Regions from separate parts of the Homo sapiens genome. Here all the other regions are linked to region 1. The links come from fine-mapping of genetic effects on gene expression. A gene starts in region 1. Each other region holds a variant in brackets. All regions are shown on one strand. Distances are between the middles of the regions.

Region 1 (9,978 bases):
AGATGGGAAGGAGGGCTCCTTGGCTCTGGGGCAGGGGGCGGCCTGGCCTCCTCCAAGGTGGATGAAAGCAGGGGCCCCACACCGAGCCACGTGTCTGGCGAGCTGCCCCCACTGTGCGGAGCCCCACTTGGACCCGAACTCCTCATGCCTGTCACTGTCTCCCTGCCGGATGGCGGCAGCAAGGGGAAGCCAAGTCCTGCTTGCCACTCCGACCTCAGTTTCCTCATCTGCTCCACCAAGGATACTGCCTTGACTCACTGCAGGTGACCGGCCCGGCCCTTTGGGGGCCCCAAGGCATGTCCAGCAAGGCTTCCCTCCTCCCTGGACCCGCTGCACCTGCAGGGTACAGGGTGCTCCTGGCAGCCTCAGCAGGTCCTGACGGACTCAAAGCTGTGCTGGCAGCCGGGCCTTTCCCGGTGGATGCTGCCACAGCTTCTAGCAGGGGCTGCCAGGGCCGGGGGTGCTGGCCTGACTCGGGGTGGGGCAGCAGAGAGGGGCTGCTGAGCCCAAATCCACGGGCCCATCCCACACGCAGCGACTGCTACGGGTCCTCTGTCCGAGGCCCTCCTCTGGGACTTCCCAGGGACAGTGGGACCCTGCCTGGGCCAGTGCAGGTGTCCAAACGGAAGGCAGGAAGGCCTGGCCCATCCAACAGGGCAGACAGAGCCGCCGCCAGGGGCCCGTTTCTTGGAAGACATTGCTGTGTGGATCCTGGCCATGCCAGCTATGCCCCGAGAGGACACTGGCTTCCCAGCCAAGGAGCCTGTCCACACCCAGCCCTCAGAGCCCCAGTGACAATATCAGAGTTGGCAGCCAGGGGCCTGGTGCTGCTTGGAGCACCTCTGAGCGGGTGTCTGAATACACCCCAACACGGCCCATATTCCCATATTCAGAATGCCGTCCCCAGGACCCGAGGCTAAAGCCCAGCCCCCCCGGCCCTCCCCCAGTCCTGCCCTTCTTCGGTTCTGCCATCCCCAAGCTCATCTCCAGCCCACCCCTGCGATCTGGCCTGCACATGGCCCCAAGGTGCCCCCCAAGGGTGAAGCTGGGTCCCTCCCAACAGCCCTTTCCACCCCTGTCCTCCCACCTGGGGAGTGGGGACACCTCTCCAGGACACCCCTGGCTCTGCGCAGCCTCCTCCTGCCTGCTGGCCAAACCCTGTCTGGTCACCCCAGACCACTGCCACATCCTGGAAGCCCTCAGCCGAGGCCAGGCCCTGGCCCTTCCCCGACTCCCCTGGCCTTACAGACCTCCACATGGGGTCTGCAGTGAGCAGAATCATGGCCCCCAAAGATGCCACATCCCAACCCCGGAGCCTGTGGCGGTGTCACGTTTCCCGGTTCACGAGGACTTTGCAGACATGCCTAGGCTGGGGGTCTTGGTGGGCAGCAATTGCAGGGTTCTTCTAAGAGGGTCAGAGTCAGGGAGGAGATGTGAGGACAGAAGTGGGGCTGGGAGAGAGAACGCCACGCAGCCGGCTCTGAGGACGCAGGAAGGGCTGCAAGGCCAGGAATGTGGAGGCCTCTGGAGGCCGGAGAAGGCAGAAAGTGGGTTCCCCCTTGGAGCCAGCCCTGCTGACACCTTCGTTTTAGCCCCATGAGACTCGCATCTGGCTTCTGACTTGTAGGTTTGTTCCAGCAGCCACAGGAAGCTAATCCTGGCGGTGGCTGCGCACCTGCTACATTCTCCACTCTCTGCAGGCTGAGGGGGGCCGAGACCCTTCCCCAGCCCACCTTGGAGACCCTGGGACTTGGCCCCCAACCTTCGAGGGTACTGCATCCTGAGACAGCAGCTGGCCACACGGGCCCTCAGGCCCAACCCTGCCCTGCGGCATCAGGGGCTGCGCTCGGCCCTCCAAGGATGATGAAGCCAAAAAGAGGAACCAGCCCATAGGCTCCTGGGAGGGTGCTCGGGGGCAGAGCGCTCGCTTCCTTTCCGCTTTAAAGAAGAAAGTTGGGCCGGGTGCGGTGGCTCATGCCTGTAATCCCAGCAATTTGGGAGGCCGAGGCGGGCGGATCACCTGAGATCAGGAGATCGAGACCAGCCTGGCCAACATGGCAAAACCCCGTCTCTACTAAAAATACAAAAAATGGGTCAGGCACGGTGGCTCAACGCCTGTAATCCCAGCACTTTGGGAGGCCAAGGTGGGCGGATCACGAGGTCAGGAGATCGAGACCATCCTGGCCAACATGGCAAAACCCCGTCTCTACTAAAAATACAAAAAATTAGCCGGGCATGGTGGCGGGCGCCTGTAGTCCCAGCTACTTGGGAGGCTGAGGCAGGAGAATGGTGTGAACCCAGGAGGCGAAGCTTGCAGTGAGCAGAGATCGCGCCACTATACTCCAGCCTGGGTGACAGAGCGAGACTCTGTCTCAAAAAAAAAAAAAAAAAAATGAGCCAGGCGTGGTGGCGGGTGCCTGTAGTCCCAGCTACTTGGGAAGCTGAAGCAGGAGAATCGCTTGAACCCGGGAGGCAAAGGTCGCAGTGAGCCGACATCGCACCACTGCACTCCAGCCTGGGTGACAGAGCGAGACTTTGTCTCAAAAAATAAAAATAAAAAAAGCGGGGGGGTGGTGAAGAAGAGAAAAGGGCACAGTGGCTCACGCCTGTAGTCCCAGCACTTTGGGAAGCTGAGATGGGAGGATCACTTGAGCCCAGGAGTTTGAGACCAGCCTGGGGAACATGGCACAAAAATTAGCTGGGTGTGGTGTGGGATGCCTGTGGTCCCTGCTACTGGGGGCTCGGGGCTGAGGCAGGAAGAACACCTGAGCCCGAGAGGTGGAGGTTGCAGATCGCACCACCGCACTCCAGCCTGGGCGACATACCAAGACTCTGTCTCAAAAAAAAAGGAAATTTGGACACAGACAGGGAGGGAAGAAGCCCATGAGAAGACAGAGGCAGAGACTGGTGGCACGGCCACGAGCCAAGGCGCCCAAGGATTGCCGGCAGCACCAGAGGCTGAAGAGGCTGGAATGTCCCTTTCCTAGAGCTGTGGGAGGGAGCAGGGCCCTGCCGACACCTCGATTTTGGACTTTTGGCCTCCGGAACCATGAGAGATAAATGTCTGCTGTTTGAAACTGCCTAGTTTGCGGTACTTGGTTGCTACAAACACAGAGAACACACGTGGTGTCTGGACATGCTGGGCCTGCCCCAAGGCCCCACCGCACGCCTGGGCTCCCTGCTCTGCAGAGTGTGCTGTGTGCCCACCCCAGGGGTCCTCTAATCCCCGGGGTCTGGCCTCCAGTGTCGAAGAGGAGACCAGCAGAGGCCTCCTCCACCCCTGGGTGGGATCAGACAGCCTGGCCAATGTCCACCCTCAGGCCTGGTGTCTCCAGGCCACGGGGACTCCTTAAGGCAAGGCATCTGGGAGATTTGGGAAGCGCCAGTGCTGAGGCAGGGTCTGCTGAGGTTTGGAGGCTGCAGAAGAGAGGGCCCCAGGGTCCCAACACCCCTCCCCGCTGCAGACTAGTACCTCTGGGCCACACAGGCCAGGAGACCCTGATCCCCCTTGCCTTGGCCCAGACCCCAGGGGAGGAAGTTCTCGGCTCCACCTGTCTCGCCCCACTCCTTGGGGAGGGCAGAGGCACCAGGACCCCACCCCGCAGAGGCTCACAGGCAGGCTGGCTGCTCTGTCCATCTTCCTGCCTCGCCTGGGTGGCTTCAAGTGCCCCCACAGGTCCTGATCTAACCAGCGCGGGTCCCTGCCCTGGTCCAGCCCCCATCTCCCTGCAGGAGCTCCAGGCTCCCTGCTCTGACACGTGGCCCTGCCCCATGCTAGCCCCCCTGCTTCAAACCTTCGGAGGCCCCCAGTGCACCCGGAGAGGCCTCGCCCTGCCTGAGGGGTGGAGGGCCTGGGCCTCTCAGAGACTCTCTCTGCCCTCCTTCCACCCAAGTCCAGCCTGGGAACCCTGCCCGGCAGCTCCACCAGCCCCTGTAATCAGCTCTCTGCTGTCAACACCCATCCCGGCCTTTCCTGGTCCCCACCTGGCCACCCTGCATCCCCTCAGGCGCTGCTTGTGACATTCTCCAAACCAGACCCCGTGTCTCATGACATTTGGGACCCCTGGGTCCAGACAGGCCTAGTCCCACCCGCGGCCATGGGCGGACGAATGGAAGGAAGAACAACAATAAAATAGAGACGAGGGGTCTGTGCGACCAGCGACACCTGCTAGGATGGGGGCGGCTGTGGAAGGTGCCTGGGACGCCGCGGACGCAGCCAGGCCACGGTGGGCGCGGCTGGACGGAGCCGCCGGGGACGCGGGAAGCGCCAGCTCCCGGACACCTGCGGACGCCCCCTCTGCCCGCGCCCCGCGCCCCGGCCGCCGGCCTCACCTGCGAAGTTCTTGGTGAAGACCAGGGTGACCAGCAGGATGGGCACCAGCACGGTGCCGATGGTGACCACCCGGTCGAACGGCAGCTCCAGCTTCAGCTGCAGAAGCAGCGCGGCCAGCGCGCCCGCCTTGTCGTCCTGCGCGCCCGGCAGGATCAGCTCCCGCAGCTTCTCTCCCGCCAGCAGCGCGGTCGCCATGTCCGCCGACTGCTCCAGGAGGTGGTGCATGGGGGGCGGGGGGCGCGGCCCGGCGGGGGGCGCGGGCGGGGCGGGGGGCGCGGGGCGGGGCCCGGCGAGGGGGGCGCGGGCGGGAGGGGACGCGCGGCGCGGGGGCGGGGATCGGGGAGCGTGGGGGCGCGGGACGGGGACGGGGCCGCGGGCCGCGGGAGAGGGTGGCAGGGGACGCCGGGACCGAGCGGGGGGCTCCGGGGGATGGGAGTAGCCGGAGGCGCGCGGCGGGTGCGGGGCTGGCCGGGCGCGGAGCCCGCAGCGGGGTTTGGGGGGCGCTCCGCCGCCGCCCCCGGGGTCAGGGGGCGGGCGGGCCGGGCCGGGGCGGCGGCGGGGGGCACCGGAGCCGCCCGCCTCCGCCGCAGCCCGGCCCCCGCCCTGGCGCGTGCCTCCGGCGGGGGCGGCGGCGGGATCCCGGCCCGGAGCGCGGGCGGCGGCTGCTGTCCCTGCCTGGGGCCGGCGGCCCCGCTCCCGCCGCGGGGAGGGGGCTGTTTACCTGCGGCGACTCCGCGGCGTGGCTCCGCCCCACCCCGCCCCCCGCCACGCAGATGCGGCGCGGGCGATGACTTTGCAGAAAATATTGAAATGAAATGAAAGGACATGAATGAGTAATGACCGGTCCCTCTTCCTGGGAACGCGGGGTGGCTGGCGGGGGGCTGCCCCGGCCCGCGGGAGGGTGGGCAGGGGTGGGGGCGGCCCTGCGGGGCTCCGGGCTGGGGCGGGGGCGCCGCTCGGTGGCGACGTGAGGACTGGGCGCGCGCTGGGGCTGCCCCCGTCGCATCGCAGGGCCCTTCGCCCAGCCCAGGGCGCAGAGGGGGCTTCCTCGCCTGGGCCCCCCACCTGCCCCGGCCGCGCCCCGCTGTGGGTCCGGAGGTTCCCGCGCTCCTGGGGTGCTGCGGCCACTGGCGGGGAAGCCGGCGCTCTCTTCTCTGGGCTCGGGCGCCAGTGCGCGGGCAATGAGGGCATCTCCCCGCCCCACACCCTCCACTGCAGCCCCGGCCCCACCCGACCCCCCCACCCAGTACCCCCAGTCCCGCCGCCGTGAGTGACCCCATCACCCCCGCTCCTGCAGCCCGCACCTCCTTCCCCCACGCCCCATCCCGTCCCCTGTTCCACAGACGTTCCCGGGGCCTGTGCCAGCTCAGGGGGTCCCCGCCGCCTCCCTGACCTTCATTCCCTCCGCTCCCCACAGCCCCGCCCTCCGTCCTGTTCTCCCTCGGGGAGCCGGGGGTCTGGCTTCAGACGCGGGCGCATCCCGCGTGGTCCCTGCCTCTTCGAGGCAGCCGTTTTCCCTCGTGCAGGTCCCCTTCCCACTATACCAGGACGAACGTGCACGATCTTTCATATAAAAGATTTAGTGTGATTGGAGTTTTAAGTTCATTCAATAATTCATTCCAAAAATGTATTTTGAGCCCGTGTTCACAGGCCCGGCCACTGCTGTGAGCAAACCAGGAGGTCCCCCTGCCTCCCTGGGCTGCGTAGGGGATGTGTCTGCTTTGAGCTTTCACGCCGTCTGCGTTTTTAAAGATCCTTGCATGTTTTCTGAGGGATGCCAGCCCCTGACTTCCAGCAAACTTCATCCTGAGGCAGGCAGTTCAGCTACATCCAATCCCAGCACCCAACCACCCAGTCACCCCAGATAAACCCAGTCACCCCAAATAACCCAGGCACCTCCAGATAAATCAGCCCTGGCAGATAACCCAGTCACCCTGACAACCCAGGCACCCCAGATAAACCAACTCACCCCCCGATAACAGTCACCCCTACCAGATAACCCAGTCACTGCCAGATAAACCAGTCACCTCCCAAATAACCCAGTCACCTCTCACATAACCTATTCACCCCAGATAACCCAGTCACTGCCAGATAAACCAATCACCCCAAATAACCCAGGCACCCCTCACATAATCTATTCACCCCAGATAACCCAGTCACTGCCAGATAAACCAGTCACCTCCCAAATAACCCGGGCACCCCTCACATAACCTATTCACCCCAGATAACCCAGTCACTGCCAGATAAACCAATCACCCCAAATAACCCGGGCACCCCTCACATAATCTATTCACCCCAGATAACCCAGTCACTGCCAGATAAACCAGTCACCTCCCAAATAACCCGGTCACCTCTCACATAACCTATTCACCCGATAACTCAGTCACTGCCAGATAAACCAGTCACCTCCCAAATAACCCAGTCACCTCTCACATAACCTATTCACCCCAGATAACCCAGTCACTGCCAGATAAACCAGTCACCTCCCAAATAACCCAGTCACCTCTCACATAACCTATTCAACCCAGATAACCCAGTCACTGCCAGATAAACCAGTCACCTCCCAAATAACCCAGTCACCTCTCACATAACCTTTCACCCCAGATAACCCAGTCACTGCCAGATAAACAATCACCCCAAATAACCCGGGCACCCCTCACATAACCTATTCACCCCAGATAACCCAGTCACTGCCAGATAAACCAATCACCCCAAATAACCCGGGCACCCCTCACATAACCTATTCACCCCAGATAACCCAGTCACTGCCAGATAAACCAGTCACCCCAAATAACCCAGTCACCTCTCACATAACCTATTCACCCGATAACTCAGTCACCCCCAGATAACTCAGTCATCCCAGATAAAATCATCATCCCCAAATAACCAAGTCACCCTTCAGGTAACCAGATAAACCAGTCATCTCCTAGATAACCGAGGCACCCCTCAGATAACCCATCCCGTATAACCCAGTCACCCCCAGATAACCATCACCCCAGAGAACCCAGCCACCCCTCACATAACCAAGTCACCCCCCCTCCCCGACAACTCAGTCACTCCCAGATAACCCAGTGCAGTGAGTTCCAGCCCCTCCGAGCGACCCGAGTGTGGCTGCTGGGTGGCTGCCTTTGTTTTCCAGATGCACTTTCTGCTTTCGCATGGGTGCCTCTCCATGCTTTCCAGAAGTGCTCGGCCAGTCCATGCTCTCACCATCCCTGTCTTCTTTCCAGCTCTCAGCCCTATCCACCTTCTAGTATCTGCCATTCTCGGGGGGAAGGGGGGGCGGGTGTAGCTTCCAGGTGCTTTGAGTTTATCTCTAGCGGTTTGTGTGCACGCTCTCTTCAAACCCTGAGCACTGCATCACTGGTCAGAGCTCACTGTAACCCTGAACTCCTGGGCTCAAGCAATCCCCCCACCTTGACCCCCCAAGTAGCTGGCATTATAGATGCACGCCACCATGCCCAGCTTTTTAAAATTGTTACTATTATTATTATTTTTTTGAGACAGAGTCTTGCTCTGTTGCCCAGGCTGGAGTGCAGTGGCGCGATCTCGGCTCACTGCAAGCTCCACCCCCCGGGTTCACACAATTCTCCTGCCTCAGCCTCCCAAGTAGCTGGGACTACAGGCACCTGCCACCACGCCCAGCTAATTTTTTGTATTTTGTTTTTAGTAGAGACGGGGTTTCACCGTGTTAGCCAGGATGGTCTCGATCTCCTGACCTCATGATCTGCCCACCTCAGCCTCCCAAAGTGCTGGGATTACAGGCATGAGCCACCACACCCAGCAATTTTTACTATTATCTTTTGAGACAAGGTCTCACTCTGTTGCCCAACCTGGAGTGCAGCGGTGGGATCTTGGCTTACTGCATCCTCCATCTCCTGGGCTCAAGGGATCCTCCCACCTCAGCCTCCTGAGTAGCTGGGACTGCAGACATGCACCACCACACCTGGCTAATTTTTTTGAGAGATGGGGTTTCGCCATGTTGCCTAGGTTGGTCTCGAATTCCTGGGCTCAAGTGATCCTCCTGCCTCAGCCTCCCAAAGTGTTGGGATTACAGGCATAAGCCACTGCACCTGGCCTTAAAATTTTTTTATCTGTAGAAACGGGGTCTCACTATATTGCCCAGGATGGTCTCAAACTCCTGATCCCCCCACCCCCACCCAACCCAGCCTTGGCCTCCCACAGTGCTGGGATTGCAGGCATGGGATTACAGGTGTGAGCCACGCTGGGACTGCAGGCATGAGCCATGCTGGGATTGCAGGCGTGAGCCACGCTGGGATTGCAGGCGTGAGCCACGCTGGGATTGCAGGCGTGAGCCACGCTGGGATTGCAGGTGTGAGCCACGCTGGGATTGCAGGCTTGAGCCACGCTGGGATTGGAGACGTGGGCCACGCTGGGATTGGAGACGTGGGCCACGCTGGGATTGGAGACGTGGGCCACGCTGGGACTGGAGACGTGGGCCACGCTGGGATTGCAGGCTTGAGCCACGCTGGGACTGGAGATGTGGGCCACGCTGGGACTGCAGGCGTGGGCCACGCTGGGACTGCAGGCGTGGGCCACGCTGGGACTGCAGGCGTGAGCCACGCTGGGATTGCAGGCGTGGGCCACGCTGGGATTGCAGGCTTGAGCCACGCTGGGATTGCAGGCTTGAGCCACGCTGGGATCGGAGACGTGGGCCACGCTGGGATTGGAGATGTGGGCCACGCTGGGATTGCAGGCTTGAGCCACGCTGGGATTGGAGACGTGGGCCACGCTGGGATTGCAGGCTTGAGCCACGCTGGGATTGCAGGCGTGGGCCACGCTGGGATTGCAGGCTTGAGCCACGCTGGGATTGGAGACGTGGGCCACGCTGGGATTGCAGGCTTGAGCCACGCTGGGATTGGAGACGTGGGCCACGCTGGGATTGCAGGCTTGAGCCACGCTGGGATTGCAGGCGTGAGCCACGCTGGGATTGCAGGCGTGGGCCACGCTGGGATTGCAGGCTTGAGCCACGCTGGGATTGGAGACGTGGGCCATGCTGGGATTGCAGGAGCCATGCTGGGATTGCAGGCGTGGGCCACGCTGGGATTGCAGGCTTGGGCCACGCTGGGACTGGAGACGTGGACCATGCTGGGATTGCAGGCGTGAGCCACGCTGGGACTGCAGGCTTGGGCCACTGCACCTACTGCATTTGTTTTGCATGTTACGCCCCTGCCTGGGGCAGCATCTGGGCCACAGCACCTTTTCAGTGAACAACGATGGTTATGAGTGGGTGTGATCTTGCCTGCCTGTTGAGCACCACTGGCCAGTCACTGTCTCGCAGAGGAAGCGGTGGGAGCTTGACAAGAAGAACGCCTGTGGCAGAGCCAGGGCCTGGACTCAAAACTCGGCAACTTGGCTGCCATCCTCATTCCCGGTGAGTGGAACGGTGAGCAAAGGTCCATGATGACACCCTGGCCGCCCAGCCTGTTACCCTCCTCAGGAGGATGTGTGGCAGGAGTGAAGGGTCCACCCCTGCGGTCTTCACACTCCAGTGGCCCAGACTGGAGGACAGTCTTCCCAAATCCCGTATTATGGGAGCAGCTGCTTCTTTCTCTTGGTGATACATTAACATGAGATTTCAACACATGGAAGGATCTTGAAGACGATGCGTGCTGTGCAAAGCT
Region 2 (9,978 bases), 53 kb before region 1:
GTGCACAGAGCACGGCCGCCATTTCCCCCCCAGCCCCTTTGCCATGCCCCTGGGGCAGCTGGGCTCAGATGAGAGGAAGGGTTGGTGGTGGGCGCCCCTGGGGCAGCTGGGCTCAGATGAGAGGAAGGGTTGGTGGTGGGCGCCCCTGGGGCAGCTGGGCTCAGATGAGAGGAAGGGTTGGTGGTGGGCCACAGCTTCTGGCTTCTTGTGGATGGGCCGCATTTCCACCTGGCCCGGTGGCGGGGTGTGGCTCACAGAGGCCCATTGCTTGGAAATGGAGCCCAGAGCTGAGGCAAGAAACAAAGCGCTGTTCCCAGCACTGGTGCCCCTCAGGCCCTGGGCACGGCTGCGTCCATGTGCCTGGCCGCCCTCCTCCCAGCCTCTTTGCCCACAGGCCTTCACCAGTGGCCTGAGGAGGTACCTGCAGTATTACCGGGCCTGCGTCCTTTCCACTCCGCCCACCCTGAGCCTCCTCACCATTGGTTTTCTCTTCAAGAAACTTGGCCGGCAGCTCAGGTGAGCCTCAGCATGGCGGCTGAGCAGGGGACTTTGCGGGAGCGGTGTGGGGCTTGCTGGGTGGTGGAGGGTTTGCCCTGCTCCCTGGCAAGGAGGGCCTGTGAGAACAGCCCTCAGCAGGCGACCGGATGGCCCTTGGCCGGCCGAGTTCACCAGGTGCCCGGTGCTGAGCGGGTGTGTCTGCCGTGGGCCCACCACAGCTGGCCCCATCCAGGCCCTCCAGGTCCGGTGGCTCCTGCCTAATTGGCACACAGGGTCCCTGGAGATGTGGCGTCCGGTACACACAAGCTGGTTAGTGAGCAACCAGGCTCGGGGGCTATTGGCAGGTGCCATCAGAGAAGGAAGAGTGAGGAGCTGGGCATTGGGAGCAGTGGGAGAGGCGACCTTCCAGGCTGAGGAGCAGAGTGTGGCAGCGCTGAGGAGACCCAAGGGCTGAGACACTGTGGGGCAGGGGAGCTGGGCTGTGAAGGGTGCGAGTTGTGGCAGATGCTTGGTACCACTGTGTGGATGGGAGGGGCTCTCAGGTGCAGCCCCCAGAAGTGGGAGGATCAGGGTGATTCGTGTGTTGGCCAGATCCTGGGAGGGAGGGCCTGCTGGGTGTGGGTACTTCAGTGGGGTGTGTGTGGACAGCGCAGGGGCACAGGGCTGCACACGAGTCCTGCAGGGAGCCCGTTTCTGGGTGGTTGGGGTGCCTGTGGTTTTTAAAGCCTGCATCTAAAGTTAGTTGCCCCAGGGAGCATAAAGATACGTGGAGACTTTGCTCACGATCTGATCCAGGCCTGGGAACCCTGAGCCCGGTCACCTGGTCTCATCCTGCCTCTGGGTCTAGGTACCTGGCCGAGCTCTGTGGCGTTGGCGCTGTGCTCCCGGGCACCTGTGGAGGAGGCCCCAGGGCCGCGTTTCCCACCGTGAGTTGTGCGTCCCTGCCGAGTGTGTCAGCCTGGTGGGCTCCAGGAAACGGGGGTGGCTGAGCGTGTCCCTGGAGGGCTGCTGCCGGCAGGGCTGCGCCTCACTCCCAGCGCTGGGTGCGCTGAGCTGCCCCCCACCCCCTTTGCGGTCTGCAGGGCGTGAAGCTGCTGTCCTACCTCTACCAGGAGGCTCTGCACAACTGCAGCAACGAGCACTACCCTGTACTGCTGTCCCTGCTGAAGACCAGCTGCGAGCCCTACACCCGGTGGGCAGTGGGCTGGGCAGGCGCGGCGGGCGCGCACTCCCACCAGGCAGACACTTGAGAGCGGTCCCTTGTCAGACACCTGCTGAATGTGGGGGTCACACAGGAAGGGGAGGGCAGGATAGGTGGACTGGGCAGGAGCCCCCAACCCCCCACCCTGCCCCCACTCCACACCCCCCACCCTGCCCCCACTCCATCCCGCCCCTCATGGATGGCCACACCCCACTCCACCTCTCACAGCTACGCCCCCACTTGCCCCTCACTGACAGCCACGCCCCTGTCCCACCCCTCACTGACAGCCACGCCCCACCCACCTCTCCGTTGACCACATCTACCCCTGCTTTTCCCCCACTGCAGGTTCATCCACGACTGGGTGTACAGCGGGGTGTTCAGAGACGCTTATGGCGAGTTCATGATTCAGGTGAACCACGAGTACCTCAGCTTCCGAGGTAGGTGGCAGCTGATTGCGGGGCAGGGGTCCGTGCCTGTGGGCCTGGGTTCAGGGCCATGGCCATGCCGGCCACCGTGGTGTTCACCCTACCTTAGATAAGTTGTACTGGACACATGGCTACGTGCTCATCTCCAAAGAGGTGGAGGACTGTGTTCCCGTGTTTCTGAAGCACATTGCCCACGACATATACGTCTGCGGAAAGACCATTAACCTGCTGAAGCTCTGCTGCCCCCGGGTGAGGAGGGGCTCATGTGTGGGGAAGAGAGGGGCCGGTCTTCCCTGGGGCTGAGTATGAGGCTGGGGCTGAGTGCTGGTGGCTGTGCTTGCATCCCCTTTGGCAGCATTACCTCTGTTGGTCCGACGTCCCTGTCCCCCGGATCTCGGTGATTTTCTCCCTTGAGGAGTTGAAGGAGATTGAGAAGGACTGTGCCGTCTACGTTGGGCGCATGGAGAGGGTGGCCCGCCACAGCTCTGTCAGCAAGGAGGAGAAGGTGCGTGGCACCACAGGTCTCGGGGGCTTTCTTCGCCCCTGCCTCTGCTTCCTGGGGTCTCAGGTTGGTGGGGCGGACATGAGGGCTGTGCAAGATGGGGGCCTCCCTTCTGGCATTTTCTGTCCTGGCGGTGGCCTGGGTGGGTGCCAAGGGGGAGTTGAGATGAAGGGTGGGTGTCAACGGGGAGTTGAGATGAAGGGTGGGTGCCAAGGGGGAGCTGAGATGAATGTCCGGAGCCAGATGCCAGGCAGGGGCTCTGACTTCTCCTCCTGGGTCTGGGTGGCTCAGCCTGAAGCCCAGGCTTTGCTGGCGTGGGAAACTCCGTTGGGGCCTCCCCGGGCCCGCCAGCTGTGGACAGACAGTCCTGGCTGCACTCCAGATGGCCTTCGCCCTTTGCAAGCCCCCTTCCTGCTGGGAAGGGACAGTGTGTCAGGGACGGGCCACGCCTCTCCTGTGTCTTCTGGGAGGGGCTCGGTGGTACAATCAGTGCCATTCCCAGGAACACCCTTTCTGGCCTGGTGCCTGGTGGGCAGCAGGGATACTTGGGCAGGGGCAGGCCTAAGAGGCTGAGCGGGGAAGCCCCCTCTTGAGGCCTCTTGGTTTCCTTCCAGGGTGGGCACACACAGCCTTGGGGTCCTCAGCCCCAGATGTCTCTGTGAGAGCCGGTCAGCTCCCGTCCATGGCCTGGAACCAGCCTTGCCACTGCTGAGAGCCTGGGGGTGGGGGAGGGTGGGCGGGGGGGCGGTGTCCTGCCATCACCTGGTCCCTCCTCGAACCCTTGGACCATGTGTCTCCCCTGCCGGCCCTGAGTCCACAGGTGTCCTGGGCATCCTAGGTGAGGGGTCAGAGGATTAGGTTGCTTTTTTTTTCTTTGAGACAGGGTCTCACTGTGTCAGCCAGGAGGCTGGAGTGCAGCGGCTCGAACATGGCTCACTGCAGCCTCCACCTCCCAGGCTCAAGGGATCCTCCTGCCTAAGCTCCCCTGACCCCCGCCAAATAGTTGATACTACAGGCACCTGCCACTACACCTGGCTAATTTTTGTATTTTTAGTAGGGATGGGTTTTTGCTATGTTGTCCAGGCTGGTCTTGAACTCTTAAGCTCATGTGATCTACCCACCTCGGCCTCCCAAAGTGCCAGGATTACAGGCGTGAGCCACTGCGCCCGGCCAGGATGCTTTGATTACCAGTTGTCTTTCTCAGGAATTACGTATGGAAATTGCAAAACAAGAATTAATCGCTCATGCCCGGGAAGCAGCATCCAGGGTCCTGAGTGCACTGAGTGGTGAGTGGCCCCAAGTCCTCCCTTCTGCAGTTCCGGGGGGCCTTGCTGGGGCCTCCTTGTGACAGTGCGCCCCTTACTGTCCCAATGTAGACCGGCAGATGTCAGAACGGATGGCCTTGGATGCCCGGAAGCGTGAGCAGTTTCAGAGGCTGAAAGAACAATTTGTGAAGGACCAGGAGGTGGGTAGGACCTGTCCCTGCGGGGTCACGCCTGTCAGTTCTGATTTCACAGGCCAGGCTCTATGTGTTTTATAGCGACGCCAGGCGGCCAGGCAGGAGGAGCTGGATGATGACTTCAGCTACGCCCGTGAACTCCGAGACAGGGAGAGAAGGCTGAAGTCCCTGGAGGAGGAGCTGGAGAGGAAGGCGAGGTAGGGCAGCCCGGGCTCCAGGCCCAGGGGTGCAGTGCGGCAGGGGCCCCATAGCTCTGGCTTAATCTTACTGATGATTTTACTTTTTGTTTTGAAAACCTTCAAACATACATTAAGGTAGAAAGACCAATATGCTGAACCCAGAGTGGCTGTGGGCGTTCTGCCTTATCCAGGCATCCTTAGCTGTTCTGCGCGTTGTCTTGTGGTGGTTTGTATGGATTAGGGTCCAGGCGAGGCCTGCGTACTGTTTGGGGTCCTGTCTCTTTATTTATCTTCTTTCTGAACATCCTTCCTTATTTATTTTTAAGTCTGTTATTGGTCTGACAGAGACAGGGCGTTTTTTTTTTTTTTTTTTTTTTTGGAAACAGAGTCTTGCTCTGTCACCCAGGCTGGAGTGCAGTGGCACAATCTCGGCTCACTGTAACCTCCGCCTCCCAGGTTCAAGCAATTCTCCTGCCTCAGCCTCCTGAGTAGCTGGGGTTACAGGCATCCGCCACCACATCCAGCTAGTTTTTTGTATTTTTAGTACAGACGGGGTTTAACCATGTTGGCCAGGCTGGTCTCAAACTCCTGACCTCAGGTGATCCACCTGCCTCGGCCTCCCAAAGTGCTGGGATTACAGGCGCGAGCCACCGCGCTCGGCTGAGACAGGGCATTTGTCCAGCACAGCATCTGCGTCTGTCTCCCTGTGCTGTTATCA[A/G]CCTGTCCTGTGCTGTCATCAGGCTGTCCCAGGCTGAGTAGTGCTGGATCCTTCAAGGGGCTGTTTGGGGTTTTGGAGAGAGCCCCTCACGGGAGGGGCTGGCCGCTTCCTGCTCAGCCCCACGCGATGCTGTAGGTCCCAACCTTAGATCTCTTTATGGAGCGAGTGAGGGATGTGTGTGGAGGGGTGCGCGTGCCTGTGTGCACGTGTGTCCGTGTATGCATTTATGCATGAGTACGTGTTCATGCATGTATGTCAGTCGATACTGTCCTGTTAACACATGGAGAAAACCAGGCCTAGACACTACGTCTCTGGCCTGTGGCAGCCAAATTAGAGCTGGCCAGTCCAGGTTTGAGCCCAGTTGCCTGCTGGTGAGAAGCTCAAAATCATGGGGCACGATCGGTGAAGCAGGCTTTGAATTCAGCAAATAAAGCGTTTGTGTTGGTTTTGCTTCATGTGCTTTTTTGCATTAGTTTTCAGTTCTCAGGTTTGTACCTGTAGAAGGGGAAGAGGCCTAACTTCTTAGAGGCCTGGGGCCCTCGGCCTCCTGCTCACCCCTTGCTTCAGGCCACACAGGATCTCATTCTGGTATTTGTCCAGCAGATGTTGCTGAGCCCTGGCTGGACGCTGACTCACCAGGGTCTCCCAGCCTGGCAGGTAGAAGGGCCTGCCTGGTGCTGCCCTGTAGGTGCTGTGAGGGCCCAGAGCTATCAGCCCCTGGTAGGGGGAGACGGGGGCGGGGGCCCACTGGGGCCTCTGTTATGGAGAACCATCCTGGCCTGAGGGGTGCCAGGTAGATGGGGTGGGGTGACTCTTGTGGCCGTGTCCTCTCTGGTGTGTGGCTTCAGGCAGGCACTGGTCGACCACTACAGCAAGCTCTCTGCAGAGGCAGCTCGTCGGGAGCAGAAGGCACTGTGGAGAATCCAGAGGCACCGACTGGAGAGTGCACGGCTTCGTTTTCTCTTAGAAGATGAGAAACACATTCAGGTATGTCTGCGGCTTCAGATGGCAGCTCTTCCCCTGGGCTTTGGGGGTCTGGAAACCCCCTGAGACTGCACACAAACCTACATGCTCTTCTAGGAGAGGGCTGGTGGCTTTCGCGTTTGCGGCAGAGCACTCTCTCTCCCCGTGTGCCACCAAATTGCACAGATACAGGTGGTGAGGAGCTCGTGGTTTTGGAGTACTTTTTGCAGGCCCAGCGTCCCACTGGAGCCCAGCACAAGCCTTGTCTGGTTCAGTGCACATGGCTGCCATGGGCGGTAGGGGCTGTGGCTTTGTGTGGGGTAGGGCTGTGCTTGACTCCGGCTTGGCCAGTCACCCCTCTGGCTTGAATTTCAGGAGATGCTGAAAGCAGTGTCTGAGGCTCACCAGCCCCAGGAGCCGCCAGACGTCCTCTTGAGCGTGCACCCCCAGGTAAGCGGCAGAGTGGAACCCAGGGTGCCCTATGGTTTTCCCATAGCCCTCGGCACCTGGTGTTGGTCATGGCTGCAGAGCTGAACTTGGGGGACAGTTCGAGGGCTGGGGGGTCCTGAGACCAGACTGGGTCTGATGTCACCTGTGTTTCAGGTCACGTCTCCGGGCCCTGAGCACCCAGAGGGAGGCCAAGGCTGTGATTCTGGGTCTGCAGAGCAACACTCGCCTGCCTGGGATGGCTGGAACAGGCCAGGCCTGCTGACCCCACAGCCCCTTAAGCCTCTAGCAGTGGGGGCTGGTGGCAGGGGGCTGCAGCAGGCGGAGGGGGCCAGACCCTTCTCTGACAGCCTCAGCATTGGAGACTTCCTACCTGTGGGCCCAGGGGCTGAGCCGTCCGTGCAGACTGGCATGGTCCCTCTCCTGGAGGTGGCGCTGCAGACCATTAACTTGGACCTGCCCCCCTCAGCTCCTGGGGAGGCACCCGCAGCAGCCAGCACTCAGCCCTCCAGGCCACAGGAGTACGACTTTAGTACTGTCCTGAGGCCAGCTGTGGCCACCTCACCTGCACCAGGGCCCCTGCAGGCTGCAGAGTGCAGCTTGGGCAGCTCAGGGCTACAGCTGTGGGAGGACAGTTGTGGGAAGATGGATGCCTGTGGCTCCGCCTCGCGGGAGACTCTGCTCCCCTCACACCCACCCAGGCGTGCTGCTCTGGAGGAGGGGAGCAGCCAGCCCACAGAGCGGCTCTTTGGGCAGGTGTCAGGGGGTGGTCTTCCCACAGGGGACTACGCTTCTGAAATAGCTCCCACCCGGCCACGGTGGAACACCCACGGGCACGTGTCTGACGCCAGCATCAGGGTCGGGGAGAATGTGTCAGATGTGGCTCCCACCCAGCCACGGTGGAACACCCACGGACACGTATCCAATGCCAGCATCAGCTTAGGGGAGTCTGTGTCAGATGTGGCTCCCACTCGGCCACGGTGGAACATCCATGGACATGTGTCCAACGCCAGCATCAGGGTCGGGGAGAATGTGTCAGATGTGGCTCCCACCAGGCCACGGTGGAATACCCACGGGCACGTGTCCAACGCCAGCATCAGGGTTGGGGAGAACGTGTCGGACGTGGCTCCCACCCGGCCACGGTGGAACACCCATGGACACGTGTCCGATGCCAGCATCAGCTTGGGGGAGTCTGTGTCAGACATGGCTCCCGCCCGGCCACGGTGGAACACCCATGGACACGTGTCTGATGCCAGCATCAGCTTGGGGGAGTCTGTGTCAGACATGGCTCCCACCCGGCCACGGTGGAACACCCACGGACATGTGTCTGACACCAGCATCAGGGTTGGGGAGAACGTATCGGACGTGGCTCCCATCCGGTCACGGTGCAACACCCATGGACACGTGTCCGACGCCAGCATCAGCTTGGGGGAGCCTGTGTCGGATGTGGTTTCCACCCGGCCACGGTGGAACACCCATGTACCCATCCCTCCGCCCCACATGGTGCTGGGGGCTCTCTCACCAGAAGCTGAGCCCAACACACCCAGGCCCCAACAGAGCCCCCCTGGCCACACGTCCCAGTCAGCGCTCAGCCTGGGAGCACAGAGCACTGTGCTGGACTGTGGGCCACGGCTGCCTGTAGAAGTGGGGCCATCTCTGTCCTCCCCCAGCTCGGGCTGCGGGGAGGGGAGCATCAGCGTGGGGGAGAACGTGTCAGACGTGGCTCCCACCCAACCATGGTGGCCCAACACCCCGGGAGACAGTGTCTCTGAAGAACTAGGTCAGAGTAGGGTGGCTGGTGGTCAGGAGTGGGACTGTGGGACGCACAGAGCCTGGGAGGTAGGCGGGCAGTGGGGTTGGTGGCATGTGAAGTTCCCCTCAGGCCTCCTTGTCAGCCAGGACCTGGGCTGCTGTGGGGGACATGGGAGGGGCTGCTTGAGCCAGGGCCGGCTCGGCTCTGTACCCGCCACAGGCACTCGGCCCTGATGCCCTCGTGTCCACTTGTGTCCACACAGGCCCTGGGAGGAGCGGGGACACTGAGGACCTCTCTCCAAATTGGCCTCTCAACTCACAGGTTAGGTGGATGCAGCCTGGGGGTCCCACAGCAGGCAGGGAGGGCTCTGTCCCTCTAGGTTGTCACGCGGGTGGGTCCCACATGCGATTTTCCTTTTTTTGGCACAAGCTGGTTGTGGGGACAGCGTGCAGTGGGGAGGTGGTTCTGAGGCTGGTGTTTTGTTAGGAAGACACAGCTGCCCAGAGCAGCCCAGGCCGTGGTGAGGAGGCGGAGGCATCGGCGGCGGAGGCTCAGGGTGGGGAGCAGGCCTACCTGGCAGGCCTGGCAGGGCAGTACCACTTGGAGCGGTACCCGGACAGTTACGAGTCCATGTGTGAGTGCAGCAGTTGCTGTTGGCAGGGAGCCCTGGGCTGGCTGGTTCCCAGCACGTGCTCCACCTCCTGTGGGTTGGGGCGGAGCCCTGGGCTAGCCAGTTCCCAGCACGTGCTCCATCTCCTGTGGATGGGGGCGGAGCCCTGGGCTGGCCGGTTCCCAGCACGTGCGTGCTCCATCTCCCGCAGCCGAGCCGCCCATTGCTCATCTTTTGCGCCCCGTGCTTCCCCGGGCCTTCGCCTTCCCCGTGGACCCCCAGGTCCAGTCTGCCGCTGATGAGACTGCTGTGCAGCTGAGCGAGTTGCTGACGCTGCCCGTGCTCATGAAGCGCTCCATCACGGCACCGCTGGCCGCCCAGTGAGTGCCCCTGCCCCTGCGCCAGTCTGCCCACCCAGCCCGTCCTGGCCCGCCCTGACTCCAGCTCCCTCCTGCCAGCATCTCCTTGGTGAACAAGGCCGCTGTCGACTACTTCTTCGTGGAGCTGCACCTGGAGGCGCACTATGAGGCACTGCGGCACTTCCTGCTGATGGAGGACGGCGAGTTCGCCCAGTCCCTCAGCGACCTGCTCTTTGAGAAGGTGGCCTCCGGACACGGGGTGGGGCCAGTGGTAGAGGGGAGGCCGTGGGAAAAGAGAGACTGGCTGCACGCCCACAGCCCCCTGCTGCTCTGGCACAGCCCCATGGGGTGCCGGCGAGTGCCAGGCATGTGCTTGGGACTCCTGGGGACGGTGGTCCCTTTTCTGCCTAGCTTGGAGCTGGGCAAACGCCCGGAGAGCTGCTCAACCCGCTGGTGCTGAACTCTGTGCTGAGCAAGGCCCTGCAGTGCAGCCTGCATGGGGACACCCCGCACGCCTCCAACCTCTCCCTCGCTCTCAAGTACCTGCCCGAGGTGTTTGCCCCCAACGCCCCGGATGTGCTGAGCTGCCTGGAGCTCAGGTACAAGGTCAGCAGCAGCCCTGGCCGCGGGGGATGGGACAGGGGCCTGCCTGCCTGTGGGATGCCTGCTGAGCCACGCCTCCTGGCAGGTGGACTGGCCTCTCAACATTGTCATCACCGAGGGCTGCGTGAGCAAGTACAGCGGCGTCTTCTCCTTCCTGCTGCAGCTGAAGCTCATGATGTGGGCGCTCAAGGACGTCTGCTTCCACCTCAAGCGCACAGGTGAGGCCCCGCTGGAGCCCGGCGCCCCGCACCCCTGGCTGGA
Region 3 (9,978 bases), 41 kb after region 1:
GGAAAGAAAACCACATAAAATAACTAACCTTACATTCAGAAATATTAAGGCTGGCATAAGGTAATGAAAATTTTATGATACAATCTTTAAGTCAATATAAAAAAATCACAGCAACAATCCAACAATCAATGAAATAGAGAACAGAAAAACACTAGAGAGGACGGGCGCGGTGGCTCACGTGTGTAATCCCAGCACTTTGGGAGGCCGAGGTGGGTGGATCACCTGAGGTCAGGAGTTCGAGACCAGCCTGGCCAACATGATGAAACCCTGCCTCTACTAAAAATACAAAAATTAGCCAGGCATAGTGGTGGTGCACGCCTGTAATCCCAGCTACTCAGGAGGCTGAGGCATGAGAATCACTTGAACCTGGGAGGCAGAGGTTGCAGTAAGCTGAGATGGCACCACTGCACTCCAGCCTGGGTGACAGAGTGAGACTCTGTCTAAAAAAATTTTTGTAAAAACCACTAGAGAATACCAAAGAAGCCAAAAAAAAAAGCATGGGACAAAATCCCACACCCATTCTTTCTTTCTTTTTTTTTTTTTTTTTAGAGACTCTGCTCTGTTGCCTAGGCTGGAGTGCAGTGGCACAGTCAGAGCTCACTGAAGCCTCAAATTCCTGGGCCCATGTGATCCTCCCACCTCAGCCTCTCAAAGTGCTGGGATTACAGGTGTAAGCCACCACACTTGGCCCCATATCCATTCTTGATTAAAAACTCACTAAAATAAGAATCTATCTCCTCAACCTGATAGAGGGCCACTACGGAACCTACCACCCACGCTGTACTAACTCGCTCAGGACTGACAGCCCTGCCCCTAAGACCAGGGACAAAGCCAGTGCAGCACTTGCCACCACTTCTATTCCACACTGGCACACAAGTTCCAACCAGCGCAGGAAGGCAAGGAAAACAAATACACAGCATCCAAATAAGAGAAGAAGAAGTAAAACTGTCTTTGGTTTTTTTTTTTTCAGACGGAGGCTTGCTCTGTCGCCCAGGCTGGAATGAGTAGCGTGATCTCGGCTCACTGCAACCTCCGCCTCCTGGGTTCAAGCAATTCTCCTGCCTCAGCCTCCCAAGTAGCTGGGATTACAGGTGACCACTACCACGCCCGGCTGATTATTTGTATTTTTAGTAGAGATGGGGTTTCCCCATGTGGGCTAGACTGGTCTCAAACTCCTGACCTCAGGTGATCCGCCTGCCTTGGCCTCCCACAGTGCTGGGATTACAGGTGTGAACCACCACACCCAACCTAAAACTGTCATTCTTTGAATCAATGATTATATATGTAGAAAATTCTACAGACTCTAGGAGAAGCTACTGGAGCTATTCAGTTTAGGAGACTTGCAGGATACAAGGTAAACATACAAAAATCAATTGCTTTTTATAAATACTAGAAACAAGCAATTAGAAATTTAAGTTAAATTTACTGTTTATAACAGCCATTTAAAAATTTTAAATAGGTATAACTGACAAAAGATCTATAAGACCTATACACTGAAAAGTATAAAATATTGCTAAAAGAAATGAAAACAGATGCAAATAAATGGAGAGACATACCCTTTTCAAGGGCTGGAGGACTTATTATTATTAAGATTTCAATTCTCCAATTCTCCCTTAAACCGACCCATAGGTTCAATGTAATCCCAATCAAAATCCCAACAGGCTTTCTGTAGAGACTGACATGACCTAAAATCCATGTAAGAAGAAAGACCTGGAACAGCCAGACAACCTTGAAAAGGAACAAAGTTGGAGGCTTGATACTACCTGATTTTGAGACTTATCATAAAGGCACATATCATACACTAGGTTTGTGTTCCCCCCAGCTTCGTATGGTGAAACTTCATCCCCAATGTGATGTTACTGGGTATGAGGAGTTGAGGCCTTTGGCAAGTGATTAGGTCATGAGGGTGGGGCCTCATGAATGGAATTAGTGCCCTTACACAAGGGAGCACAGAGAGCTCTCCCATCCCTTCTGCTGCGTGAGGACACAGGGAAAAGACAGCCGCCTACGAACCAGGAAGCAGTCTCACCAGGACACTGAACCTGCTGGTGCCTTGACCTTGGGCTTCCTGACCTCCAGAGCATGAGAAATACATTTCTGTTGTTTATAAGCCACCCCATCTATGGTGCTATGCTAATGCAGCCTGAGTGTACTAAGACAGACAATAAGACCCTGTAATGTTGGTGTCAAGACAGACAAGTGTACAATGGAACACAACAGAGAGTCTTCAGAAACAGATCAACAAATATTTGGTCAACTGATTTTCTTTTTTTTTTTTTCACAAAGGTACAATAGTAATTCATTGGAGAAAGGGCAGTTTTTTCATCAAATAATGCTTGGACAACTGGATGTTCATTCCACCCTCCAATTTCCATTCATACCCCACAAACAATTTGCAAAGCTTAATGAGATAGATCATAATCCTAAATGTACAGGATAAAGCTGCCAAGTTTCTAAACAGGATAAAATCGTTGAGATCCAAATTAGTTACAGATTTCTGAGATGCATCATTAAAAGATCTGTGAAAGAAAACATTCATAAACTGGACTTCACCAAAATTAATAATTTCTGCATTTCAAAAGGCACTATAAAAACAATGAAAATACAAGCTGTAGTCTGAGGAAATATTTGCACAGACACGTATCTGATAAAGCACTGTACTGAAACTATACAAACATCTCTGCAAACTCAATCATGAGAAAACAATTTTTTAAAATGGGCCCAAAGACTTGAGGAAGGACTTCAACAAGTATTTTGTACAAATGGCAAAAAAGCACATAAAAAGATGTTCAGTGGCCGGGTGTGGTGGCCCACACCTGTAATCCCAGCACTTTGGGAGGCCAAGGTGGGCAGATCACAAGGTCAGGAGATTGAGACCATTCTGGCTAACACAGTGAAACCCCGTCTCACTAAAAATACAAAAAAAAAAAAAAAAAAATTAGCCGGGCGTGGTGGTGGGCACCTGTAGTCCCAGCTACTCGGGAGACTGAGGCAGGAGAATGGTGTGAACCTGGAAGGCAGAGCTTGCAGTGAGCCGAGATCGTGCCACTGCACTCCAGCCTGGGTAACAGAACGAGACTCCGTCTCAAAAAAAAGAAAAAAGAAAAGATGTTCAGCATCATTAGTCATTAGAAAAATACAAATTAAATCCACAACGAGATATCCCTTCACACTACAAGAATCAGCTCTGTTCCAGAGTCAAAGCAGGTCAAGGAGTCCAGGCCTGGACGTCGGCTGCAGTCTCTCTAGCTGCCATGATGGAGGCTGTGTGCCTTCTACCAGCGCTGCTGCTCCCTGTGGTCCCAGCCAACCCTCACACGTCATCATCCAACACAGCTGCCCCTTCCTTCCCATTCCTGGGTCTTCTCATGGCACTCACATGCTGGGGTCTCTCATCTTGCACAGCAAACAAAAAGTACCCCCCTCCTGGTCCTCCTGTATCTCTTTGGTCACCAATTTCTCTCGCTCTCTCTCCATCCTGCCCTCCCTGCTTTCATCGGCAAATGCCTTAAAAAGGAATCAACGACATTTCTCCATTCCCCCGTAGTCCATTCATTCATTCTCAATACATTCCAATCTGGCTGTAGCCCAAATACTGCCGATTTCTCAGACAGACATAAAAAGCACTAATATTAAAAAAAATTTGATAAATTTGACTATATTAAAACTAGCACCTTCTGTTAATAAAAAGACATATATATATAAAATTTATTTATTTATTTATTTTTTGAGACAGAGTCTCGCTCTGTCTCAGGCTGGAGTGCAGTAGTATGATCTCAGCTCACCGCAACCTCCGCCTCCTGGGTTCAAGCAATTCTCCTGCCTCAGCCTCCCAAGTAGCTGGGACTGCAGGCATGTGCCATCATGCCCACTAAGTTTTGTATTTTTAGTAGAGACAGTGTTTCCCCATGTTGGCCAGGCTGGTCTCGAACTCCTGACCTCAAGAGATCCACCTGCCTTGGCCTCCCAAAGTGTTAGGGATTACATCACACCCAGCCTCAAAAGATACTTTTTAAAAAGCTAAAAGATAAGGAAGAAATCTGGAGAAGATATGTACCTAAGAATAGTTTATCATAAGGAATACAGAAAGGACTCCCACAACAATGAAAATTGGATAAATTACTCAATAAAAAAGAGGGCAAAAGACGCAAGCAAGCATTTCATGGAAGAGGAACATTTTACGGCCCACGAACAAGAAGATTCTCAGCCTTGTAAATAAGTCAGAGAAAAGTAAATCAAGACCATCATGAGATGCATTACACACCTACCAGACTGGCACCAATTAGGAAGTCGAACAAAATCAGATTACAGAAAGGGCACCGATCAGCAGGCTGTTATACACATGGATACTGAAAGTCACTGATGCAACCACTTGTAAAGCTGGAAAAACCCCAAACCCAGCAATCCCATCCCTACATACACAGCAGCTCTAGGAACAGCAGCAAACAATCGTAACAGCAAACAATGAAGATGTCCATCAACAGAAAAACAGCGGGTATTCACACAACCGCAAACCAATGAACAGCAGTTACAACAACACGGAGACATCTCAGGAACACAATGTTTAGTGAAAATCTCGACTCCTAGGAACCAAATACAGCAAGTTACTCCTTTTCTAAAGTTCAAAAGAATTAAAACTGAAGAATACATTTTTTGTGCATGACTAGTTAATGGTTTTGTGGAGGAAGAAAAAGCCAGCTGGGTGCCAGGTCACAGCACCCCTCATCCGACAAGAAAACAAATAAAAGTAAGGAGCTGGTAGCTGACGGTGACAGTGAGGCATGAACCAAAGATCCGGTGCACATGAGATCTGGGAAAGAATACACATGCAAATGTATGCACCTTTATATCTCAAAAAATAGTTGATAATAAAGCTAGAAACACGGGGTATGCAAAAATGCTGTAGGAGCCCACTTCCATCCACAAGGCCTATACACGTCAACCACAGGCATGGTGGGGGCTCCTACGTCACTACTTAGATGTCAACAGACATACTCAAGAGAACACTGTCCAATTAAAGATAAAGAGACAAATTAACTGGGCATGGTGCCTCATACCTATACTCCCAAAACTTTGGGAGGCTGA[C/G]GCAGGAGGATCGCTTGAGCCTAGGAGTTTATGACCAGCCTGGGACCCCATCTCTATTAAAAAAAAAAAAAGATGGCCGGGCGTGGTGACTCACGCCTGTAATCCCAGCACTTTGGGAGGCCAAGGCAAGCGTATCACAAGGTCAGGAGTTCAAGACCAGACTGGCCAATATGGTGAAACACTGCCTCTACTAAAAATACAAAAATTAGCCAGGCGTGGTGGCAGGCACCTGTAGTCCCAGCTACTTGGGAGGCCGAGGCAGGAGAATCGCTTGAACCTGGGAGGCGGAGGTTGCAGTGAGCCGAGATTGCGCCACTGAAATCCAGCCTGGGCAACAGAATGAGACCCAGTCTCAAAAAAAAAAAAAAAAAAAAAAGACATTTGAAAGAAGACTCACTAAAAGCATTACCTATTATATGTAAATTCCACATCCATAGGTTCAAAGTTATAGGCTTGTTCAAATTCTGGATTAATTTTAAGAGTTACATCTTCTTCATGAATCTAAAAAAGGAACAAACAATATACCTGATTTCTTGAAATAATGTGATATCTTTATCTAGCGACACATCATCAAAAATTCATTCTATAGCTCTGAGCTAAAATTTGATATCTGCAAAATTAGTTGAAAAGGATTAAATCATTACGCCATTCGATTATACAAACAAGAGGAAATGGATCACTACACACTCATACTTACTGAACTTCTATTCACTTGGCTGTAGCCTCTCCTAAGGCTCTGAGAATAGAGAATGTGTGGGAGGTCACTGACTCCATAGGACACAAACAAAACAACCACAAGGGTAGCCAAGTGTTACCTACTGTAAGGAAGCCTCGATAAGAAGGTCTGCTGGGTGCGGTGGCTCACACCTGTAATCCCAGCACTTTGGGAGGCCAAGGTGGGCGGATCACCTTGAGGTCAGGAGTTTGAGACCAGCCTGGCCAACGGGGCGAAACCATCTCCACTAAAAATAGAAAAAGGACCCAGGCGTGGTGCTGGGCACCTGTAATCCCAGCTACTTGGGAGGCTGAGGCAGGAGAATCTCTTGAACCTGGGAAGCGGAGGTTGCAGTGAGCCAAGATCGTACCACTGTACTCCAGGCTGGGTGACAGAGTGAGAATCCATCTCAAAAAAAAAAACAAAAAAAACAGTCATTACAAGACTTATCCTTTTAGTAGAAAAGCCCTCCAGCTAAAGCAAGATCCTGCATGATCAGTTCTGCATATTCTTTCCTAGACAGTATGGGTAGAAAAATAAGAAGGAAAGCCCTGATCTGAAAAGGAGCTCAAGCTCTTCTCCAGGTGACTCAGGCAACACCCTGGTAGGGTGAGTTTCCTGAGGGTCAGGGCTGACACCAGCAGAGAGTCGGGAAGCTACGCCCTGGGATGGCTTCCAGCTCCGGGAGGAAGGGAAGCAACAGTGGTACAGGGCCATGGGATTGTTTCCCCTGAGGATGAGGAAGACAGACCAAGTCCTGACTATACACAGGAGACATGCGTTAGTCTACTTGAGAACAGGTGCAGGTGGCATCCAAGAAAGCCTGAAAAGATGAAAATAATTTTTGGAGCTAAAAAGGATACGGAAGGTCATTTCAGATGCCAGGGTTTGATCAATGGCATGGAGGCCCGGCCATATGGCTCAGGAACCAGGGGTGGAGGCAGGCAGGTGCCTTCCTCCTGAGATCTCTGGCTCTGCTTCTTTGGAGGTTTTGGTATGCAAAGCTTCCTTTCTTGGCACAGCTGGTCTAGGAGGCTAAGATGGTCATTCGGCCATCTTGGGCTCCTCATGTCAACTTGGTCAACAGCAAAGGTGGGTAATGGAGAGCTGGCGAGGTCATGTCACTCGTGTCTCACATCTCAGTCCACAGGCGATGGCCTAATTCATTACAAAATCTCTGAAATCCTGCCAAGATGTTGTCTTCTGGGAAATATCCCACTCTGTGAAATCAGCCACAGCATGGACCCTGCATGAAGGTGTAGCGCAGAGTGACTGTGGCATCAAAGGTCGGAAGCTGCCTCTTCTCCAGATCCTTATCAGGCTCTTCTAGTTCTCTCAGCCCTTCTTCCTTCTGACAGTAAAGGCTCTGGCATTCTCCCTTCAAGTTTTCTACATTAAGTAATGTGTGGCTTCATCTTCTCTGATGCACAGATAGAGCACCTCCCTTCTCATGCAGATCCCAGTATCACTCCCAGTGCTATGACCAGTACATGACCAGTAAAGTCCAGCCCAAGAGTCACAGACCACCCCATGCAGAACCATCTGGAGCACCAGGATCTACTCAAAGCCAAAAAAACCACCTTCACGCAAACATCAGAGCTGCAAACTCATAGGTGTATTTTTCCTTTCAAGGCCTCCACTCTGCGAGCTCTTCTGGAATACATTCAGAATGCCCAAATACAACTCAACGCAAACCTCATGACTTACATATAACCTAAAAGATAAATATGTTTTACATGGTTGAAAATTATAGTATTAAGTTTCCTTTATGCATCAAAAATTATTTAAAGATTCACTGTATCTTGACATTTTCCAAAATAGCCAATGCATATGGGAGCATCTCCCCAAGAGCCGTGGGGAGAACGTTACCTTTCCAACCGGTCAGAAGGGTGTGTCTAACACAAACTCATTAAGAGAGAGTGCTCTCACCTCAGTCACGTAGCTGATGTATTCGATGGCATGTCCATTGTACTCTTGAGTTTTTAAAATCAGTTTATCACCTAGTTAAAAAATATATTACCATGTTTAAAGCTAACACAAAATCACAAATTTCTGTGCTGTCCTATAAAATCCAACACTGAGGAGGTTCAATAAAACGTTACTGGGGTCAGGCTGGGTGCAGTGGCTCATGCCTGTAATCCCAGCACTTTGAGAGGCCGAGGCGGGCGGATCACAAGGTCAGGGGATCGAGACCATCCTGGCTAACACGGCGAAACCTCATCTCTACTAAAAATACAAAAAAAAAAATCAGCCGGGTGTGGTGGCGGGCGCCTGTAGTTCCAGCTACTCGGGAGGCTAAGGCAGGAGAACGGCGTGAACCCGGGAGGCAGAGGTTGCAATGAGCTGAGATTGCGCCACTGCACTCCAGCCTGGGCGACACAGCGAGACTCCACCTCAAAAAACAAACAAACAAACAAACAAAAACATTACTGGGGTCAACTGCTTACAACTAATGAAATACAACAAAGAAACATGCTTGATGTACATCGGTTGCTGATTTTTAGTGAAATTCTAACCCAAAAGAAAGAAAATGCGATAATGTGACTGTCATATTGCCAGTTAAAGAGTATCTTCTCTCAAGTATGGTTTCTCTGCTAGTCCACCCAGGGAAGCATATGAGTAACAAACACACCTGCGTAGAGAGAAGGCCTCCCTTCGGCCAACCCTGGGACCTCCAGAACCAGCAGATCCCCATTCCTTCTTAAGATGATCCCGCTCATGTTATACTCTTTCAGTTCCATTTCTGCATAAATCTCCTCAAGCCACAGCAAAGTCGAAAACTTCTCCTTGTAATTTGACATGTTCAGAAGCTGGAAAACACCCAAATGTTATAAAGTCAGCAACAGCTCAGCAGCACTCTGGAAAGTAGCAGCTCCGGAGCAGGAAAGTTCCAACAGCTCCAGTTCAGCAGATGGCCCCCCAGGTGGGGCGATCCTCGCCGGAGTCTGCAGGTGCCTCAGTAAGTTCCCCGGCCTTCAGCACGAGGGCCATGGGGCTCCAGCACACTCCCTGGCCTTTGGCATGAGGCAGTGGGGCTCCAGCTGGCGGTGTCCCTCCCTGCACTGCCCACTCCTGTCCACCCTCCCTGCTCTTTTTCAGGTTGTCCACGTTAATTCTGGGAAGGCAGAATTTGGCTTCCACAGACATCTGTGAAAAAAGGACAAACTTCCAGGTCTGGCCAAGGTGGACTAACAAGGACCAGATTTACCCTTCTACCTGAAAAAAACTTAAAGAGACAGAGAAATAAGAAACGATGGTGTTTAAACAATGAACATCACGTAGCAAAGGATTGTGATCCCAAGACTGGGGAAACAATCCATGGGGGCCCCATGACTGATCCACCTGTGCCTGAACAGAGCTCCTAGGCCCCAGCACAGAGGACCCAGGGATGCTGCATGGTTTCTAAGGAGAGGAGCTCTGATCTGTGGGGCTGAGCGCTGGGAAGAGCAAGCAGCACAGAGTGGTCTGGAGAGGGTCAGGGGACCCACTCAGGACCATCAGCTCAGCACTAAGGAATGCATGAGACACCATCCTGCAAAACCCATTGAGGGGCCAGACCAGGGCCTCAGCATGAGGTGGGGGAAAACTCACAGCAGCCTGCCCGGAATTGGAAAGTGGGAGGGCAGAAAGTGCGTCTGAACACATGGTGGCTGAAAATTTCCAAATCTGAAGAAAACTCAAGGCCGCATATTCAAGAATCCCAATGAACCCCAAGCACAAGAACAGGAAGAAAAGAATCTCTACCACCACACATCGTAAACCAAATCTATTAATATCAGTGATAAAAGAGAGAATCTTAAAAGCAGCTAAGAAAAAACAACGTTATGTGCAAAAGAGCAAAGATAAGAATTAAAGCAAAAGAACCCCATAAGAAAAACTAAAAAATACTTAGGAGATGAATAAAAACAAAAACACAATACAGCAAGACTTATGGGAGCAGCACAAGCAGTGCTGAGGGAATTTGTGACTATGAGCACTGATTCCCATGAGCACTGCAAGGAATTAGACAAAGGAGAACAAACTAAACCCAAAGATAGCAGAAGGAAGGAAATAAAGATTAGAGGAGAGATGAACAAAAGAGAGAACTGAAAAACAATACAGAAAACCAGGAAAACAAAAAGTTGGTTCTCCAAAAAGATCAACAAAATTGACAGACTTTTAGTAGATTAACTAGAAAA

Which allele goes with the higher level. Positions count from the first base shown, and alleles are read on the strand shown. Sizes are in standard deviations (SD) of each study's normalised expression. Not every link is listed here.
For the expression in nucleus accumbens of the gene that starts at base 4,558 in region 1, allele A in region 2 goes with a higher level than allele G (small effect, 0.30 SD a copy in GTEx).

What was found. PIP is the estimated chance that this variant, and not a neighbour inherited with it, causes the effect.
Region 2: its variant is the best candidate, but not a certain one, in a credible set for the expression of PANX2 in nucleus accumbens (GTEx, PIP 0.83).
Region 3: its variant is the best candidate, but not a certain one, in a credible set for the expression of PANX2 in lung (TOPMed, PIP 0.63).

Annotation. Positions count from the first base shown.
Region 1 is chr22:50,165,311-50,175,288 of GRCh38, reverse strand. It overlaps PANX2 (pannexin 2), which reads right to left and starts at 4,558. Exons shown (of 3, transcript NM_052839.4): 1 at 4,333-4,558. The coding sequence starts at 4,558. RefSeq lists enhancers at 3,033-3,725, 9,050-9,601 and a silencer at 5,325-5,384.
Region 2 is chr22:50,218,445-50,228,422 of GRCh38, reverse strand. It overlaps TUBGCP6 (tubulin gamma complex component 6), which reads left to right. Exons shown (of 25, transcript NM_020461.4): 5 at 395-516; 6 at 1,346-1,424; 7 at 1,581-1,690; 8 at 2,045-2,136; 9 at 2,234-2,373; 10 at 2,480-2,629; 11 at 3,831-3,912; 12 at 4,003-4,091; 13 at 4,167-4,282; 14 at 5,831-5,969; 15 at 6,321-6,395; 16 at 6,549-8,172; 17 at 8,408-8,466; 18 at 8,632-8,779; 4 more. Among named protein-coding and RNA genes, the nearest start is that of SELENOO-AS1, 13 kb to the right of the region's middle. RefSeq lists an enhancer at 8,186-8,828. The variant A/G (reference allele first, on the strand shown) is at 4,983.
Region 3 is chr22:50,124,024-50,134,001 of GRCh38, reverse strand. MOV10L1 (Mov10 like RNA helicase 1) reads right to left here. Exons shown (of 27, transcript NM_018995.3): 11 at 8,433-8,610; 12 at 7,730-7,800; 13 at 5,495-5,586. Among named protein-coding and RNA genes, the nearest start is that of MOV10L1, 39 kb to the right of the region's middle. The variant C/G (reference allele first, on the strand shown) is at 5,086.